4 separate regions of the Homo sapiens genome follow, and all the other regions are linked to region 4. The links come from fine-mapping of genetic effects on gene expression. A gene starts in region 4. Each other region holds a variant in brackets. All regions are shown on one strand. Distances are from middle to middle.

Evidence for each region. PIP is the estimated chance that this variant, and not a neighbour inherited with it, causes the effect. A credible set is the group of variants that fine-mapping cannot tell apart.
Region 1: its variant is the best candidate, but not a certain one, in a credible set for the expression of VLDLR in whole blood (TOPMed, PIP 0.81).
Region 2: its variant is the best candidate, but not a certain one, in a credible set for the expression of VLDLR in whole blood (INTERVAL, PIP 0.56).
Region 3: its variant is the best candidate, but not a certain one, in a credible set for the expression of VLDLR in thyroid (GTEx, PIP 0.56).

What each region holds. Positions count from the first base shown.
Region 1 is chr9:2,655,253-2,660,402 of GRCh38, forward strand. VLDLR (very low density lipoprotein receptor) reads left to right here. Exons shown (of 19, transcript NM_003383.5): 19 at 1-4,804. All of the region lies in intron 2 of LOC105375957 (a long non-coding RNA gene), which reads right to left. Among named protein-coding and RNA genes, the nearest start is that of VLDLR-AS1, 35 kb to the left of the region's middle. The variant C/A (reference allele first, on the strand shown) is at 2,267.
Region 2 is chr9:2,284,937-2,290,086 of GRCh38, forward strand. It overlaps LOC105375955 (a long non-coding RNA gene), which reads left to right and starts at 4,164. Exons shown (of 4, transcript XR_929426.3): 1 at 4,164-4,357; 2 at 5,143-5,150. The variant C/T (reference allele first, on the strand shown) is at 2,755.
Region 3 is chr9:2,540,910-2,546,059 of GRCh38, forward strand. The region is part of intron 1 of VLDLR-AS1 (VLDLR antisense RNA 1); the gene reads right to left. Among named protein-coding and RNA genes, the nearest start is that of VLDLR, 78 kb to the right of the region's middle. The variant C/A (reference allele first, on the strand shown) is at 2,979.
Region 4 is chr9:2,619,194-2,624,343 of GRCh38, forward strand. VLDLR (very low density lipoprotein receptor) reads left to right here and starts at 2,594. Exons shown (of 19, transcript NM_003383.5): 1 at 2,594-3,078. The coding sequence starts at 2,997. VLDLR-AS1 (VLDLR antisense RNA 1) reads right to left here and starts at 3,180. Exons shown (of 4, transcript NR_015375.2): 1 at 2,907-3,180. RefSeq lists an enhancer at 2,136-2,430 and silencers at 2,309-2,388, 2,999-3,268, 3,539-3,628, 3,639-3,728.

The DNA of each region.
Region 1 (5,150 bases), 36 kb after region 4:
GAAGAGCAGATGAGGAGTTTGAGACAAAGAAAAAATTGTACAGGGAGTTTAGTGAATTTTCCATCAGGTTGGCCATTACTTTCTTTCTCTAAAGTCTCAGGATGTCTGGAAGCAAGGAAAGACAAAAGACTTGAAGCACCGGGTGCATGCTGTGTGTCACAAGTGAGGTGGAGAGTTGGCTGTGGAAGGTACAGCAATTCCTCTGGAATTAAATGACCGACCAACACAGTACCAAGAGGATGAAGAGAAGATGTTTTGCGTTGCTACGTGAATCAGTGGATGACTCATATTTCACTTGCATATGAAATATAAGGCAGTTAACATCTTGTTTGTGGCTTAAGCAAGGACATTAATCCTACTAGATGAAGGGGAAGTTGGTTCTGTTGTCTTAAGGGATGCCCCCTTGTGATTTTGGTCAACTGAATGAAAAAGAAAAGATAGCCTTGGACTTTTTTTTCATGGGAGGTTTGGAGGTCAAGCATGTAGAAGGAAAAGGCTGTAGTCATGAATATAGAACTGTCTGCTCTCCACCTTTTCCTCACTCTACATTTAGTCATCACACTGAACAGGATGTGGCCTGCTGACAGTGAGTAGCTGAAGTGCCTGTTTGGTAAGTAGGTTAGCATTCATCATGAACTCTGAAAGCCATTTCAGAGTTTGGCTGCTGCTCTGACCCTGCTGTGGTACAAAAAACATGGATTTTTTTTTTTTTAACTGGAGTAATACCAAATTCCCTTTAGAAGCTTGAAGTTTGATACTATTGCTTTCCCCATTATAAGGATTATACAGTATTAATTAATTATAAGGCCCAAAGTTTGTTTTGGCAAATAAAGTATTATTCTCTATCATCATCTTTTGAATTCCTGTCCCTAGTATGTTCTTTCATGTTCTGGGTAAAATTTCCAACCCTCAAAGAGTCTAAAACGTCTCATTTTTTTTTACCACGTCCTCCCCAGTAAGAAGCCAAGGTACAACTCATTGTACCTACGAGGTACAAACTCATTTGTAGAAACAAAGTAACTAGATATTCCTATTGAAATAAGAATAGATATATTGGTGGGCCAGGCATGGTGGCTCACGCCTATAATCCCAGCACTTTGGAAGGCCAAGGCAGGAGGATCACTTGAGGCCAGGAGTTCGAGACCAGCCTGAGCAACATGGTGAGACCCTGTCTCTACAAAAAAAAAATTTATAAAAATAAAAGAAAAAAATAGTTATATGACTAAACTACTAGTCAATACAGCTTGCAATAATAGTGCATGAATGATAACAGGCCTCGGCTTTATCACCCAAAAAATAACTTGAATTCTATGTGAAATGTGTTAGGATAAGTTTGCTCTGTCTCTAGAGTTCAATGTAGAAGATAATTAAGAGGTAAAATATGAAGCTTATCATACACTAAAGGAGAATATTTGGAGTTAGATGAGCCTGTCACACAAAGTGAAAGTGGACCCTCCAGAAATTTTAGGAATTGCCACAAAGATTGATGATAGATGAATAAACAGATTTGTGGCCTCTGGTAAAGAAATCCAGCCAAGTTCCTCTGTCCAAATTTTTAAGTGCCCTTTGCAAGCTAATCTATTTGGCAAAAAAATAGTCCCAGTTGTTCAACTAGCTCCCTTAAAACATTCTAGTAGGTGTTTTAAAGCCTAGGTATCGCTGCCTCTTTAGTTCTTGATGAATACAAGGCAAAAAAAAAAAAAAAAAAAAAAAAAAAATTGAGGCTTTCACTTTGGCATTTGCTTCTGTTCCTTGTATCTGTGGAAGTCAAGTAGCCCTTCTCAAAAATGAGAAGCCAAGCTTTAAATAGCAAACTACAGGGTATTAAAAGACTAACTCTTCAGTTAAGAACACTGTAGAAATGGTAGACCAACTTAAAGTCTACCTTTTAACAATCTTTACCCCAAACCTAAAGATTCTAGGGGTCACTTATCTCTATTACGTAATCTAACTGGAATAATTTCCTAGAATTCTTACTAGTGAAATCTTACCCAAGTAAAACAATTTATTATTTTGAATCCAAATGAAAGCTATACTGTTTGCTTTCAATGGTGGCAAAAACTTGCAAAAAGCAGATATACTTTTGCTAATTTAAGTTGAAGTACTATGAATACAACCTGCTAATCTTGATCCCCAAATCTGAGCCCTTCAGTTTCATAATTGTTTTATCCTGAACGTAGTTGTGACATAGACATTTCTCAAAAGGGTCTGATACATCAAACTCCTAACAAGTAGGAGCAGCAACTAGCTAAAGAGTAGAAAGAAG[C/A]TTCCCTTATTGTGGGTGATGAGGCGGTGCCTAAAAACCACATATATATAATCCCCTGGGTATTACATATTCTGCAAGCCCTGTTAGTGGGGAGATGGTAGTGGCAATAGCAGCGATAGTTGCGTCAGTGCTAACTGCTGCTGCTGCCCGTTCTGTTGGCGGCTGCTGGCCAAGTGTGCACACTTAGCCCTGGTTGAGGTGCATTGTCTGCTGTCGTCTGTTAAGCATCTAACCGGAGTGGGAGGGCACATCAAGCGATTTCACTCTCTTAAAGAAAAGGTTTTTAGGTATTTTTGGTATTATATAGTCTCTAAGGCCAGAAGGGGCTTATAATGACTTCTCTTCTAGAATTGTAATACTAAAAAACTACTCGAGTAAATATCCTAACAAGTATGATTTTTCTTGGGAAAACTAAAAATTGTACATCCATGCTTCAGCCATATCATGGGCCTAAACTATGAGAGTTCAGAAATATATAAAAGTACAAAAATCTTCAAAGGTACTTATTTCCAAATATGGAGGGAATGAATCTGAAGAGGGAACAATGGCGTTTTTCGAACTTATTTCTCTCTAATCCAGCCTGGAGGATTTTTAGCCGAAACAGTTGCATGTGAAGGATTATCAGCCATCTTTGCATATCCCTTTCACATCTACCTTCACACAGGAAAGCTGAATGCATTTTACCAGTGAGGCTCTAGATATGAAACTTAGGGATCCATAGATAAATAAGCTACTAACAAACTGATAACAGTGGTGTTCCATCTCTCTATCATGTCTCCTGAGTCCGTTTCACGTTTTTGAGCCTGGCTAATGAGAAAAAGAACAAAGTAGGACCATGACCCAGTGTTCTCCTGTAAATCTCACTGTAAAAATCTCAATGCAAAAACACTGAGACAGGAGTGAGACCAGCTGCGGGTGGGGAGTTTGTGCTCCGCAGGTTACCTCATGGCATATCAAAAATGGCTTTTTTCTTCACTGCGCTCAAGGAAAAAGTCAGATGGGTGACAAGGTGGTTCTGTTTAGAAGCAGCAGGCAATGTAGTTAACAGCATAGACTTCCGTGTCTTGTGTGTGGTACCTTGGGCAAGTTACTAACTCCCTCTGTAAAGTAGAGACGATGGGGACTGTCTCACTGTGACAAGGTAAGATTTAAGTGAGATGCACACAAAAAGCTCAGCACAGTGTCTGGCATCTAATATGTGCAGGGCAGATGTCACTACTGAATATCACATCAATGCTAGGGCTGTATTTACTGTCACACACAGGCACCGGTAAGTGACTTTACCGGTGAAAGTCACAGGTACCTTTATCTATGATGAATGTAATGTGTTAGATGGTGACCGAAGTGTTCTCCACTACACCTGTCTGAAGAGATCTAAGTCTGATATTTAAGGAGTGATAGCATCTTGCATACTTAAGAAGGCTTAAAAGACTGCATGGTTTAAACCCTAGAAACATAAATGGAATGTTTCTGCCTCAGTTCTTTTGACTACCTCCTAGGACATGGAAACAAATATTTGGGAGCCTGCATAGTCTTTAGATGGCTGCCAAAGCACTTAAAATCTCCTTTAAATTCTTACCATATGCTTACTTTTGTACTAAGTAAGTGCTCCCAAGTCTTTTACTTGCTCTTCACAGCAACCCTAATAGGTATCTCCATTTTACATAGGTAAAAACTGAGGCTACAAACAATCTATGGTTCCAAATCCTATGTGCTTACTGCCGTCTTCTCTTAGAAGGGGATGCAGTACTGTACAAAGATTGAGCTGGATGTCGCATTGCATGTTTGCTGAGTCCTCCTCATTGCTGATGTTAGGATCCTTCAACAGTTTCTCAGATGCCAGCTATGGCTGGCATCCAGTATGGTGGTGTAATGGAAGTGTACTACTAGCACTACTACATCAGGTCAGCACAGATTAACTCAGTTACGTGTTATACCTTCAAGACGCTAGACATTCCAGAATTATTTTCCTTGGCCATCCAAGTGAAGTAGAAGTAGATTGTTGGATTGCAAAGAAAATGATAAAGATTCCCTAAAGGAATTTATAAGCAGGCAACTTCATTCCTATGTATAAGATATTGGGAGAAAACAAACTGTACCACAACAAATCTTAAGTTTCAAGGCTCTCCTATAGGGAGAAACATGGCCAAAAAGACAGGAAGAACTGTGGCTTGTAACTCAATGATGCTATAACTCCAGCACTGGATCTTAAGTATTCTGGAATATACCAGATTGGTAGAACTACCAGACTTGGGTATTTCTCAGTTAACACACATGCAAGGAGGAAGAGAGTTTTTTTGAACAAAATGACTGGCTTTGACAAAACTATCTTGCTCTTTTTAAATGTCACTTGATACTAGAATGCGATTTAAAAGCATGTAATGCCTCAGGAGTCCGGCATATACAACCAAATTATCATGCTCAGGATCTTCAGAATTCTAAAGGCACATGTTAGAATGCAGAGTCCTGATGACCTGTCAATAAACTTTTTTTTACTAATGAACTGTACATTTAAATAAAAGTTTATTTTTGGGATAATTGTGAGCCTTTCCTTTCTCTAGAGACCTTTTATAAAAGCTTTTACTCAAATCTTTTTCCTTTTCTCAACTGAATCACTGAAGATGACTCAGTCACCCCTTTCTAGGAACAAGTAGGGCCACCCAGGTCTGGACACTTCAGGCTGAAAAACTGAGAGATGGTCCCTTTCTTGCCATATTTAGTACAGTTAGTGCCTCACCATGGACAGCCAGTATATTATCCTCTCAAATTTCCCCTCTCTACCCTTCCCATGAAAAAGACAGAAGTCAAAGCTACTGTTACTTAGTTAGGAATGTTAGCCTAGCACTTCCTTCTTGTAGGTGACTGAGAACAGGCCACACCTGGC
Region 2 (5,150 bases), 330 kb before region 4:
CCCCTGCTTTCTGCTCCTTAAGCATGTTGAGCACCTCAGGGCCTTTGCACATACTGTTCCCTGCCCTGGACCATGCTTATCTCTAGATAACCATATGGCATGCTGCCCCTTTCCATCCTATGTCTGTTCAGATGTCACCTCTGCTGAGAGGCTATTTTGACCAGCCTTTCTAAAGTAACTCCATCCTATAGTTTCTTGATCTTTACAACACTTAATCACTACCTGACAATATTAATATATATTTCTTTTCAGTTTTTTGTCTGTCCTTCTATAAAGGAAAATCCATGAAGTCAGGGCCTGATATGTTTGGTCAATGATATGTAACACCCCTAAAATAGGTGTTACAGGGCCTGACACACAATGGAAATTCAGTAGTAAGTGGTGAATTAATAAACTAATTCATTCAAATAAATTTTCTGATGAATTTACTGAAATGGAAGAGGTTAATTTTAGGCAGAATTGAAGAAGGTGAATAATGAGCTTCAGATAACCAGATAATTTTAATTAGTATATCACAACCTCACCAACCAGTCTTTTGAAGGAACTGTTACTGTGATAATTTGCATCAACTTGTAATGAATATTGACTAAGTTAGTTTACCTGTAGTGAATCATCTGCATTTTCCATTTGGGATAGTTTCATGTTTCAACAGGTTTTATGCCTCTGTCACGTTAACCAGGTCCAAGAGGGAGAAATAGCTGTGACGAGCTGGCAGGTGTTAAGTATAGACCACAGCTAATTCCTCTTAAAGGCTTAATTTACATTCCAAATAGAATGCATCTGTTTTTCAGATTCTAATTATTTTAATGTTGTTTTTGCAAAGGGTGATTTCCATAACTTGAATATTTGAAAAATTCAAATTGTAACTATGTAGAACTGAACCAATATAGAATGAAAGGAAACCCAATGCGTTCGTTTGTGAGGCATTGCCCTCAGGAGATATATATAGCTAGAATTTGCACTGCCCTTATTTTAAAAATGTCCAGAACCTCTAGGCTCCTACTGTTTCCCTGGCTCACTCATAAAAAGCTGCCTAGCAGTCTACTTTTTGCCCTTGTAGTAATGCCTAATTTTCTTTGAACTAAATGCTTTATGCTTATCTCTTTTAATTGTAACCACCTGAAGTAGAAGAGGGTTTTTTTTTTTGTTTTTTGTTTTTTTTTTTTGTTTTTTTTTTGAGATGGAGTCTCACTCTGTCATCCAGGCTGAAGTGCAGTGGTGCGATCACAGCTCACTGCAACATCCGCCTCCCAGGTTCAAGCCTGGGAGTAGCTGGGATTACAGGCATGCGCCACCACGCCTAGCTATCTTTTTTTGTATTTTTAGTAGAGACAGGGTTTCACCATGTTGCCCAGGGTGGTCTCGAACTCCTGAGCTCAGGCAATATACCCGCCTTGGCCCCCCAAAGTGCTAGGATTACAGGCGTGAACCACCTCACCTGGCCTAGAAGATAGTATTGATCCCATTTTATAGAAGAGGAAACTGAAGTGCACAGATCAAAGCCACACAGTGAATGAACAGGAAAGTGGGACTCTAAGGCCCCTCCCTAATGTGCACTGTGTACTACATCCAATCAAGAGCCTTCTGTATGACAGACACACCTGACAGCAATAACATAACTTAGGCACACTCTGAGAATGACCCTATGGTCTAAGAAGAATGTGTGTTTGTAGCTGTAAGCTAAGGAATCCAGAAGTAGCCAACATGGAGATTCATTCCTTATCCCTTGGCCCATCCTGTGGAGCACAGGCTGTACAGAGGATCAAGGCTCTTTGTTTTGGGTTAAGTGAAGGTTAATGGGTAGAGGTTCCTAGGAGGAGGGTGTTAAGTGAAAACACTATATAAACTGCATGCTTTATACAAGTTGTTACAGTTCTCCTGTCTAGTCCACCACCACTGGACGGGACTGCCCTGTATGTAAGTTCCCTCAATAAACCCTATGTCTTGTTCACTGGTGCCAGGTCTTTAGCCTCTCAAACACGATGCCATTCCTATTGAATGAAGTCAACAGGGGTCCAGCATGATACCTGCCAGTCTTGAATTCTTTTTACACCATTTTGCAGCCATCCCCCTCCCCCATTCCATCCTTGAGTTCTAACTCCAAGGACACACAGTAGCTGCTCAATGAGCTTTGGTTGTGTTGTCAGTTAATCATTAACAAAATGACCCTCCAGCTCCCTTTTAGAGTATCACCAAAAAGTGTTTTATGAATACACCATTTGCAAACGTTATCATGAATCTGGGCTGGATTCAGAGCCTAAAGGAGGGTAGAGTGCCCGCCTGGCTACCTGCAGGGCACTCACCTGAGCTCTTCAGGAATGATTTCACATGTTTTTGCCAATTCTAGAGCCATTGAAGTCCACAGCAGGTTTTTTTTTATCCCAGCAGTCCCTAGCCTACCTGATATTCTGACAAGCAATTTGATTTATCTCTTGGCTTTTATGTGGCTCTATCTGGAGTAAAAGTGGCAAGGTATTTGAAAGTAAGTTAGAGTGTACGGTTGCTTTTCTTGAGCATGGGAGAACCACTGGAACTGATTTTTTAATTAAAAAATTAAAAAAGGCTGGCCAAGGAGGTAAAGGGCTCAAACAGCCTGGCTTTGGGAAACTTGATTCCTGCTTTCAGCTTGATGGAGTCTCTCCTGAGCATTTCAGACTGTACAGCTGTCCACAGTTTGGAGGTAAAAAATGCCATCACCCTCTTAACCAAGCTTCTCTTTGTCAGAAATTCGGTTTCCAGTCCTCAATGACTTTG[C/T]ATTTCTGTCTCCACAGCCTTTTTGATATTTCATTAACACACATGAAAATCCTTCTGAATGATGTTCCTGTGCTTTGTAAAAACGCATCTAGCATCCCACAGGTGATATAGACAGGAGACAGGGAGATACTGAGTAGAAGAGGGTGGTTTCCTGGCAAGAACCCCACCCTCAAGCCTGAAGAACCTTGGCCCTAAATGAGGACAGGCATTCCTGTTTTTGCACTCAAGAAGTTGCCTTTCGGCCTGCTACGTTCCCTATCCTGCACCCATATAAACCTCAAACCCCAGGCTCCAGGAGCAGACCAGCAGATGAAGAGAAGCAGAGGGACGGCAGAAGGACACAGCAGGGAGACAGGAAGAGGAACGTTCAGCTGGGGGTGGTTGGAAAGGAGTTTGGCAGCTGGACAGCCCAACTCCAGGGGAAGATCATCTTCCCACTCCATCCCCCACTTCCGCTTTCCCATCCATCCCGCCAAGAGCCACCTCCACCACTCGACGAAACCCTGCGTTGATCCTTCAAGCCCGTGTGTGACCCGATACTCCCGGGATGCTGGATAAGAACTCGGGATACAGAAAGATTTCACACTGGCCCTCTGACCTTGCAAAAAGGCAGAGGGTCCATAGAGCTGGTTAACACTTAAAGCCATCTGTGGACAGCAAGGCTAAGACAGCATTGTAGCACTGGGATTGCAGGCGCCCACCTCGAGACCCTACCATGGGGCTGGAGCCCAAAGTGCTCGCCCCAGCTCTGCATCTGCCCTTCTGCGTGCTCCCTTTCCCGCAAGGGGTTTGAGAAGCAGCAGGACGGTGACCTGTCAGTCACTCCACACCCCTGTCACAAGTACTGAGAGGGGGAACCGGGAACTCTCCCATTTCACAGGGACTCTAACTTACTTCCTCATCACTAAGTTTAGAGTTGCTCCACACTTGCTTTTTTCTTCTGTGGGTATAGGGGAGTTGGAGTTGCTAAAATGTGCTGCAACCCATGTTTTCCCTTTAGCCTGGAGTACTCTTGCTTGGTCCCTTCCCTCATCCTACTCTCACCCTACAGTCACACTCCCAAAAGTTTGCCCGGATATGGCTTACTTACTGTACCCATTCTTCATGTTACCTCCTCAAAGCCTTCTTTGAAACTTTCCACCTTCAAGATCAGGTATCCTGTAGTACTGATATATATGTAGTTGGTGCTAAATAAATGTGATTGGGTGGATTAACGAATACATGGACAGTTGGATGGAGACCAAGCAAGGTGGTGTAATCCCATTCTGTGAAAATTTTAAAAAATAAGAAATTGAACTCACAAAGGGACAACAAATATTTTGGTTTCCAGGGAAGATAAAAGAACATTCTATATGTATTGTGATTACTTTTTTCCAGGGACTCTTTAATTCCTAACTTCCTAGCAAGGAGTGACCAAGACAGCTTTTTGAGCTATCATCTGGCTCTATGACTGTGGTGTGAGGAGGGTTTGCACTTGGTGCCAACACAGAGAAATCACCCTGTTTAGAGTAGAGGGGATGAAGGACGGGGGGAGAAATCACATCCCCTGAACTCTCAGCTATGGAAAGGCCTGGCTCTTGGCACAGTTACCGGGTATTACCAGGTACCAATGTCTGTCTTGGATGACTCCAATACTCTCTCCCTCTACTCTTCCCTTGTCCCTCACTCCCTGACCCTCGCCTCTCTGGGCATCAGCAGAGGGAAGCAGGGGCCTCTGCCATCCCATCAGCCTGTACCTTCCTGCCAGACAGCCTTGGAGATGATTGTCACTGCAGTGGCATCTGGGGAACCCTGCTTTCCTCTGTCTTGGCTCATAATTTTTCAGAGCCGGAGGAGCAGCCACTCTAAGCAGCTCTGCACTGCTGTGCTTGGATGCTCACAGTTCAGACACGTCATCTCCCTCCTCAGCAGAGAACAAGCTCACATAGCTGCTGCACAAATTTATGGCTCAGCCTGAACATCCATTAGCTATGCTTCCCTTTTATTTTTTAAAAATGTTAATTATACAAATAATACATGAACACATTTTAGTTGTAAAATTTAAAATCTAAGCATAAAAGTAAAGCTAAAGTCTACTTTGACCATACGCTTTCTAGACCATACCCCTTTCTAGAGGTAACTGTTGTTACCTTCTTTTGTGCATTTAGGCTCTTATACAGAAATACAGAAAAAATGGTTTTCATATTTAAAAAATTTAAAAATCATGTTATATATAGTGTTCAGTAAATTGTTTTCTTATTTCACTAATATTTCTTTTCCTATTAATATATACAGATTAACCTCATTCTTCCTAACTGTTGCATACGGAATGGCTATGGATATAGTAGCATTTATTAACCCATTCCTTATTCATAGATAGACTCATTAGAGTTTTTTTTTTCCCACTAGAGACAACA
Region 3 (5,150 bases), 78 kb before region 4:
AATTAAGAATGGCAAAAGTAATTTTACAAAAACTTCTATAGAAATAACATTGTTCAATTAAGTTTATAGAGTATGCCCAAAAGAAAAATATAAGAATATTCACATGAAGAAATATTAATCTAGTGCTCCAAAGACCAGAATATGTACTCCAGGGGCGTCAGGGGCAGGAACCATGAAACAGAGATAAAAGTTGCTTTTTGAGATTTTTCTCGCCTTAGCCCTGAATGCTGCATGCTCTGAAAGAATCCAGTTATGGGAACACAAATTACCTCATCCTCAGTTTCACTTTAAAATAAAATAAATAGGTTACATTTTCTTTTTTTCTTTCTTTTTTTTTTTCTTTTTATGAGATAGAATTTTGCTCTTGTCACCCAGGCTGGAGTGCAATGATGCGATCTCAGCTCACTGCAACCTCTGCCTCCCGGGTTCAAGCAATTCTCCTGCCTCAGCCTCCTGAGTAGCTGGGACTACAGGCACCTGCCACCAGGCCTGGCTGATTTTTGTATTTTTTTTTAGTAGAGGCAGGGTTTCCCCACATTGGCCAGGCTGGTGTGGAACTCCTGACCTCAGGTGACCCGCCCGCCTCGGCTTCCCAAAGTGCTGGGATTACAGGCATGAGCCACCTTGCCTTGCCACAGGTTAGATTTTCAAGTGTTATTAAGTTGCTTACACAAATTTAAAGTCATGAGCATGACTTTAGGATCTGTGCTTTTTATGTCAAGTGCTCCTCTTTCTCGGAATTTTAACAATAAAGTTTTTTTCAGAGTGCTGTGCAGTATCTCATTTCATGAAAATAACTCATGGCATAATTTGATGTTTTCTCGATCTTAGATTTCTCTTTGCAGCCAGGCTATTCTTTCTAAAATAAAACTGATATTCTCTAGAAAGGTTTGCCTGACGCAATTGGCATTTCTACTGAGCTATGTTCTGGGAATATTTGTCAGAAAATCTGGTCATTGAAAGCAGAATTGTCTGTGTCCTTCATTCCCAGGCAAATAACCTGTGTTTTCTCTCTTCCTCCTTCCTTCCTTCTCATTCCCTGAGGGCATCCACCCTTCTCTCCAGCAATCCATGTGTCATCACCTCCTCAAACTGCCTTTCCTCCCATGCTCTCAGAGGGCTTCTGCACTAATCCTTCTACCCTTGGAATCTCCTTTTCTTTTCTTCCTCTTGACATGGAATGTTAATACAGAAATTCTTGCAAAAATATGGCTACCTTTATAGTCTAGATAAAAGAAAAATCTTCCTCCAGCAGGGTAACTTGTGTTTTCTTTTTTTAAAATTTTTCTGGGGGGTTGTTTTTTTAAGTTCCAGGATACATGTGCAGGGTGTGCAGGTTTGTTACATAGGTAAACATGTGCCATGTGGTTTGCTGCATCCATCAACCTATCACCTAGGCATTAAACCCAGCATGCAGTAGCTATTTTTCCTGATGTTCTCCCTCCTGCTGCCATACACAATAGGCCCTGGTGTGTGTTGTTCCCCTCCCTGTCTCCATGTGTTCTCATCATTCAGCTCTCACTTATAAGTAAGAAAATGTGGTATTTGGTTTTCTGTTCCTGAGTTAGTTTGCTGAGGATGATGGTTCCCAGTTCCATCCATGTCCCTGCAAAGGACATGATCTCATTCCTTTTTATGGCTGCATAGTATTCCATGGTGCATATGTACCATGTTTTCTTTATCCAGTCTATCATTGATGGGCATTTGGGTTGGTTAATGGGATCTAATTAAATGGGATCATTGATGGGCAATTGGGTTGATTCCATGTCTTTGCTACTGTGAATAGTGCTGCAGTGAACATAGTGTGCATGTATCTTCATAACAGAATGATTTATGTTCCTTTGCGCATATACCCAGTAATGGGATTGCTGGGTCAATGATATTTCTGGTTCTAGATCTTTGAGGAATTGCCACACTGTCTTCTAAATTTACATTCCCATCAATAGTGTAAAAGCAATCCTATTTCCCTGCAACCTCGCCAGCATCTGTTGTTTCTTGACTTAATAATCGTCATTCTGACTGGCATGAGATGGCATCCCATTGTGGTTTTGATTTGCATTTCTCTAATGATCAGTGTTGTTGAGCTTTTTTCATATGTTTGTTGGTGGCAGAAATGTCTTCTTTTGAGAAGTGTCTGTTCATGCTCTTTGCCCACTTTTTAGTGGGGTTGTTTTTTTTCTGGTAAATTTGTTTAAGTTTCTTGTAGACCCTGGATATTAGCTCTTTGTCAGATGGATAGACTGCAAAAATTTTCTCCCATTCTGTAGGATGTCTGTTCACTCTGATGCTCGTTTCTTTTGCTGTGCAGAAGCTGTTTAGTTTAATTAGATCCCATTTGTCAAATACTTGCTTTTGGTGCAATTGCTTTTGGCGTTTTTGTCATAAAATCTTTGCCAGTGCCTATGTCCTGAGTGGTATTGCCTTGGTTTTCTTCTAGGATTTTTGTAGTTTTGAGTTCTACATTTAAGTCTTTAATCCATCTTGAATTAATTTTTGTATAAGGTGTAAGGAAGGGGTCCAGTTTCAATTTTCTGCAGATGGCTAGCCAGTTCTCCCAGCACCATTTGTTAAATAGGGAATCGTTTCTCCATTGCTTGTTTTTGTCAGGTTTGTCAAAAATCAGATACTCGTAGATGTGCAGTCTTACTTCTGAGATCTCTATCTTGTTCCATTGGTGTATGTGTCTGTTTTTGTACCAGTACCATGCTGTTTTGGTTGCTGTAACCTGTAGCATAGTTTGGAGTTGGGTAGCGTAATGCCAGCTTTGTTCTGTTTGCTTAAGATTGTCTTGGCTATACAGGCTCTTTTTTGGTTCTGTATAAATTTTAAAATAGTTTTTTTCTAATTCTGTGAAGAATGTCAATGATGGTTTAATGGGAATAGCATTGATTCTGTAAATTACTTTGGACAGTATTTTCTACTTAAGTGCACATACCTTCAAAGGGACATATATAGAAGAAAAGGAAAAGGGACCTATC[C/A]TAGCCAGCATATCACAGGGCTCATGAGCAGCTTCTTCCTTTGAATGGTCCCTGGGCTCTCCTCCATTCCCATCACTCTGGCCCATCCCACACTCACTACTAGAATTGCAGACCTCAGAACATGTCTTGATGACATCTTTCATCTCTGAAGCTCTGGAAATTGCTAGTAATTGGAATTCTCTTTCCCTTCATAGCCTCCAAGTCCTTCTCAAAGGTCATAGGGACTTAGTAAATGTTAGGGTTTAAAACTACTATTTTAGGGACACCTCATCCATTCAACAGGCCTTTATGGACTGACCTAGAAGTACTACTAACACTAATTATATTTTATTTACTGATAACCTTAAACCCTTATTTGTTAAAGGAATTTTAGCATTATTAATAGGACTGTTGATGACAAGCCTAGCACCTAAGAAAAACTATGAGTTAGAACCAACTGAATTATACACCTAATCTCTGATAAAGAGTATATAAGTTGAAGGCTCCTCCTTGTGTGTTTGCTTGCTTTTCACATTTTTTACCTTTCTGCATATTTATTTATTCAACAAATATTTGATAATCCCCTGCTACACATTCTATTAGGTGCTATGACTAAAACAATAGGCTAAAGCAGAGAGCTCCTGCCCTTGTGGAGCTTACAGTCTAGTAGAATAGACAGACAACCAAATACTGCGGGAGTGGGGAGAAAAGCTGCTACAAAAACAAATGATTAAAAGGATGGGTACACAGTGCTATACTAAGAATAATCAGTCTAGTCAGAGAGGCCAAGGAAAGCTGAGTAAAGGTGGCAGAAAAGAATGTTCCAGGAGGAATAACATGCGCAAAAGCCCCATAGCAAAGGCAGCTTGGCAAGGCAAGGGCCTGAGGAGAAGTTGATGTTGGCTGGGTGCGGTGGCTCACACACATCATCTCAGCATTTCGGGAGGCTGAGGTGAGCGGATTGCTTTAGCCCAAGAGTTCAAGGCTAGCCTGGGCAACACAGTGAGACTCCATCTTTACCAAAAAAGAAAAAAAAAATTACCCAAGCATGGTGGCACATGCCTGTGGCACATGCCAGCTACTGAGGAAGCTGAGGAGGGAAAATTGCTTGATTCTGGGGAGTCGAGGCTGCAGTGAGCCATGATCACACCACTGCACTCCAGCCTGAGCAACAGAGAGACCCTGTCTAACAAGAAAAAAAGAAGCTGATAATCAGGAACATATATAAGCAGTGGAGTGGGGTGCATGATGAGGTTGCACAGGCTGAACTTTATGGGGCTTTATGAGGAAGAGTGAAGGAAGCCACTAAAATTACCTGAAAAACTTTTGACAGGATCAGTTAGGAACTTTAGATCAGCTCTATAGTCACAGCATAGAGAACCATTGGTGGCAAGAGCAGCTGTCCACCATCTACGTCTTGAAGGCCATTGCTGGAGTTCTCATGAGAAATAAAGGTCACTTAGACTAGAGTGGATGGAAACAGACTCAAGATAATGGTAGATGGGGAAACTCACAGGATCTGGTGGTGGGTTGGATAAGAGGGCTGAAGCTCAAGAAGCATGGTCAAATGATGCTTAGGTTTCTGATGGATCCTAGTTTAACTATTTGGTGCTTTGCTCCGTCGTTGGCTGTTGCCTATGGTTTTTAAGCATGAAATATTTTTTTCTTCATGCTCCTACTCCATCTTGAAGGGAAAATTCTCTATTGCTTCAAACCTAACAATGCAGAGAGTCCCTCAGCATTATTCCACCAAATTCCCCAAATAAGATTCCCAAACAATTTGTTTCTAATATTTTAAGTAAGTTTGATCTCTCCCCCGTATATATTATTTCTGTCTAGTATAATATCCTTCATTGAAATGGGAAATCAGAAAGTGTGATATAGTGGTGAAAGATTTTTTGCTACAAGTCATTGAAATCAACTTGAACTAACTTTGACACTAAAGAGAATTTATTACAAGAATATGAGAGTGTCTCATGCAATCAAATGCAGAAATGCAAGCAAAACATAGGAGTAGGAGGGAATCCCTCAGATTCTCTCTCCATATTATCTGTTCTTCTCTGTATGGTGGCTTCAGTCTCATCTTGGAAGGCTGGTTTTCTCCGCACTTAAATCCACAAGATTGCCCCATAATAGCTCCTGTGTTTATATGCTCTGGTTTTAACCACAAGGACTGACCTTGTGGTTTGTTTG
Region 4 (5,150 bases):
CATCTCTTAATCAGAGTGCTATACATAGGGTACTACAGTTGCCCACTTGCCTGCCTCCCCTACCAGATGCTGAGCTTCCTAGATAAGCACTTCTGTATGCCCACTACTTTGCACAGTGCCCGTTAGCCAGGGATGCTCACTATGTGTTGCTTCAACAAATAAATGAATGTGGTGGATTGTAGGAGTGAATGGGATTGCCTCTGCATTTACCTGACGGCGTCGGGAATCCAGCAGTGTCAACTTCTCTGAACCCAGTTAGTTCAACCATTTCAGTCTCCACTTATGATCAATTAGCTCTGTTAGTTCAACCACTTCAATATCCACTTATCATCAATTTATCTTTTTAGTTATTAGCTACTTTCTATCATAATCCAATGAATTTCTCCATACAACCTTTTTCTTCTAATAAACAACACCTTGCAGAGAGCTGGTCCTTGAGGCCACGGAGCACTTTGATATAATGTGGCTTGGCTTTCTTTTCAGTTTACAGGCCAAAAGGCAGACACAGAGAGGCACAGTGATTTTTCCCAAGTTACACAGTCAATCAGAGATGGAGCCAAAAGTTATGCTTTCTTTTGAGTCAACAAAAAAGCTACAGGATTGAATACAGAGCTGCAGCTAAGTTCACTGAAAGTTTATTTATATCCCTTGGAGAATTAGAAAGTACTCACACACGTTTTTCAAAGTTAAGTCTTATTATACCATATCAATGTATAGCTTGTAGTATACCTGTATCTCTGAGTAAAGTATTAAAAACAAGTCATATGACTGTTTATTAATGCTGCCTCTTTTTGTATTGATTCCACCCATCCCTTCTACTCCTTTCCTCTTCTGTAAAGCAGTAGCTCATCAGATGGCATTTCAGAACCCTGAGAATATGAAAGACATCATGCACTAAGGTTTTCCTATCACATCTCAATGCCATTAGGTGAATAACACCGGCATGCATCTTCACTACTAAATGTCATACAAACAAATTTCAGTTGTTTCACATGCAACCTGTGTGGCTGCTGCAGTTTGTATCAACTATGTAACCACAGGGTGGGCAAAATAGCATTCAAAATGAGCTATAGTGCAAGATACCATCCATACGTAGAGTTAAGCCCTTTCATGCTTAGCAGTCACAATCAGGATATCTTTGGCCCACAGAAACCTATCCTGACTGGAATTTTCCTCTCCTGTGTGTCTCCTGGATATAGTAAGTTCCTAATAAACATCTCCTCTGATTGCTAGCCTTGACAAATTTCCAGGAGAACCAGGGCAAGGAGAAGACAGTGAGGCAGTGCCCGCTGCTCTTCAGATCACCAACAGAATAGAGTCAGAATATGATATTATTGAAACCTTCCAAGTTTGAATTAAGATAAAAACAACTTTTTCAAAATACCAAAAACCTTTTATTTAAGAAAGTGAAATCGCTCGATGTGCCCTCCCACTCTGGTTAGATGCTCAACAGACCACAGCAGACAATGCACCTCAACCAGGGCTAAGTGTGCAAGAAAACTGAAGTACACAAAAAGCAAATTATAGACTCAGGTACTGTCAGGCACAAAAGAAGAACCAACCCTTTCTAGGAGTCTTGTCTTTGCTTCCTTTATTCTTTCCTCGATTCTTGTAATTGAATGTTACAAAGTATATCAAGAGGAATAAACGTATGGGGCCCCTCTCTTCCAAACAAGAAAAGGTTAAGCTTTTAATTACAGGCCCTCAAACTATCATTTTGTGCAATTAGCAATTAACTATAATCGTTGATGAGCAAATGCAAAGCTGCGCTAGCAATTTCCCTTCTCCTCATCCCAGGCTGGGTTATTTCAGTCTTGTTCTATTACAGAGGACCAGCCACAACCGCGCGCACTCTCTTTCAAACATACACACTCTCTCACTTAAAGACACATTTAGTTTTCGGCAAAACGGCATCTCAGCGTGCGATTGAGACCGGCATCCCAAACCCCACTTTTGAGCAGCCCAAACGTTTGGAGCCCCTCCGCTTCATCACTTTCTGAGTGGATAGAGGAGGCCCGAAGAAGATGCTACCTACCAGCCTCTCTCAGGGGCGCAGGAGAGGGTGGTAGAGAGATGCTTGTTGCCCCTGGAAACTGCAAGTACCCCCCAGGTGCACGCCCCGTCAGTGGGGAGGCGGTGGCAACAGCAACGATAGTTGCATCAGCGCTAACTGCTGCTGCTGCTGCGTGTTCTGCCGGAGGCTGCCGGGAGGGTACAGTAATGACTGTAGGGAGCGCACAGCCGCTGCGGCGGCAGGTTCCCTGGATCAGGAAATTAGGACAGGCACCCGGGATTGGAGGCGAGGGCGGCGCGCGAGCCAACCAGCGGTCGCCCCGGGCCCCCGTGAGCCCCAGGCGAACGCGCGGAGCAGCCGGGCCCCTAGAGCGGTCCGGGTGGCGGCGGCGGCAGCCACGACCACGACCGCGGTCACTCACGCACGCTCACACTCGCACGCTCCCCGCGCGGGCACCCGGCTGCCCGGCGCGTGCAAGAGGAGCGCGTCGAGGGAAAGGAGGGCCGAAGCCGCCGCGCTCCCGCCCGCCCGCCGCGCCTCCCGTTGACCACGCCCCCTCCGGCCCCCTCCCCGCTGCTCACCCCGCTCTCCGGCCGCCGCCGGTGCGGGTGCTCCGCTACCGGCTCCTCTCCGTTCTGTGCTCTCTTCTGCTCTCGGCTCCCCACCCCCTCTCCCTTCCCTCCTCTCCCCTTGCCTCCCCTCCTCTGCAGCGCCTGCATTATTTTCTGCCCGCAGGCTCGGCTTGCACTGCTGCTGCAGCCCGGGGAGGTGGCTGGGTGGGTGGGGAGGAGACTGTGCAAGTTGTAGGGGAGGGGGTGCCCTCTTCTTCCCCGCTCCCTTCCCCCGCCAACTCCTTCCCCTCCTTCTCCCCCTTTCCCCTCCCCGCCCCCACCTTCTTCCTCCTTTCGGAAGGACTGGTAACTTGTCGTGCGGAGCGAACGGCGGCGGCGGCGGCGGCGGCGGCACCATCCAGGCGGGCACCATGGGCACGTCCGCGCTCTGGGCGCTCTGGCTGCTGCTCGCGCTGTGCTGGGCGCCCCGGGAGAGCGGCGCCACCGGAACCGGTGAGTGAGGACGCGCCCCTCCGCCGGCGGGCGGGACCCAGCCGGGGCACCGGGAGACCCCGAGGCGTAGGTCTCCGTTTGCCCACCCGCCTCCTAGGAGGCGCCTCTCGGTTCTCCTCGCCTTCCCTCCCTCCCCTCCGTGGTGGCGCCTCTGAGCTGTCAGCGCCGAGGCTAAAGGGAGCCGGGCTTGGGGAACAGCGGGGTTCGGGGTGCCCCGACGCCTCGCCTGAACTAGTCTTCTGCCCCTCACTCCGCCTCCCCCAGAGCCGCTGCTTCGCCTCGTTTCTCGCCCTCTTGACGGGCGCCGAGGTGCGTGGGCTTCTGAGCATTGAACAATGGTTCTGCCTCCTCTGCCAGGCGCAGTGTTGGGAAGGAGGCAGAGGGCCAAGACGTGTGCGGCAGCCTCGGGCGCACCCTCGAACCCCGGGGAGTGCGGGAGCGGACGGGGGGAGAAGGTGAGCGCCTCCGGGGACGCGGAGCGCCAGGGGCCGGCCGGGCTTCAGAGTCTTCCGGCGGCCGCGAGCTGGCGCACGTTCGGTGGGCGGCGGCCGGGAGGCTCCGCGGAGCCGAGGGCACCCGGACTGCGACTCCCCCGGCGCGGGGCCGCCTCTCCGGCGTGCGGGGTAGGGGAGCGGCGGGGCTTTACGCAGGACTCTGCTCTGGGCGCTTCTCCTCTCCCTTTTCCCCGCCTCGGGCGGCGTTTGGAAACCGCTCGGGTCTCCCGTGTAGCTGAACGCGGAGGGGGAGTGGAGGGGAGACTTAATCAGGTTAGTTTGCTGACCCTCCTTCCCGGTGACGTTTCCTCGAGAGGAATTGAGTCCTAGGCTAGTGACTGTAATTAGCCTTCATTCTACACAATAGCTCAAAGGAGCAGCGCGAGAGCGAGCGTGTGGCCCTGTCTTGTTGGGAAGGGCGGCGGTGACTACTGTCGGGTCCCCAGACTCTGCCGCGGGGGCCTGGGGGCCCCGCCTGGTCGTCAGCCACGTTCCCACTTGGGGCCTCGTAACTTTCCTGGACAGGCGACAGGAAGCCTTTCTGAGAGGACTCAGTCGGAATCCTAGCGCGTCCCCGAAGTGATCTTCAGATGTGACGCCGAGGGGCTTGCTTGCCAGCTGCAGGGAATTGGGACTGAAAGCCGCCCAGGCCCTTAACACCCGTTCCAGAGTCCCTGGCTCCCGTCGCCGGGTGGCTTCAGGGGCCCTGCCGGCCTGCAGTCACGTGCTCCTGAAGTGAGAGCGAACTTTAAAGCATGTGGTCAAGGAGCCTGTCGGGCAGCGCCTGGGGTTTTTACGTCTCCGAATGCCCCTGCCCTTTGGTTGCCACTGTCCGGAGCGTGTGAACTGGGACTGGCCTTTCCGCCCTCTGCGATTGGTTAGCGGTGCGATCACGTTTAGGTTGGTCACATGGTTCCGCGGACTCTTAAGTGGGCAGCATGGGCAGTGTTATTTTCAATGGAAAGTAGGAGACTCCACAGGCTCTTACGGGCTGTTCTCTCAAATGCCTTCCCCTGCCTGGACTCTTTGAAGAGGACGAATGTGTAGTGAACATGGAATCTGATGTGTAACAAGCCTGAGAGCCTAGAAAAGCTCTGCTTACAAGAGTTTCCAAACGCTAGCATTAATCATTAATAGATGAGTAATACTAACTTATTAAACGATTTCTCAGTATAGTGCCATGACTTGCATTATGCCTTTTGTAACATTTCAAAACGCTAAGGTATACCAGAAGGAGGGACAATTATCCAGGAAGGTGAGAGAAAAGTTTCGTTTTTGCTGCATGTCCCTTCCACTAGAGGTTAACTTTACCTTATAGAATGCTAGGAATGCACCTAAACTACTGACATGAGTTAGTCAAAGCCAGATGTTCACCTTGTATTGGGCAGGTGAGGATCCTTTTCACTTTGTCACATGTGAAATATTTGACATGCCATGAACAATGGAAAAACAAATTCTTCAAAGGAGAGGAAGCAGATTCTTCCAGAACTGGAGGAAATTTGGGCTGAGGCAGTTATTGACCCTAAACCAATCCCAACCGGCATCTGTCTTAAGTTCAAAGTCTCAGGGCATGTGGGC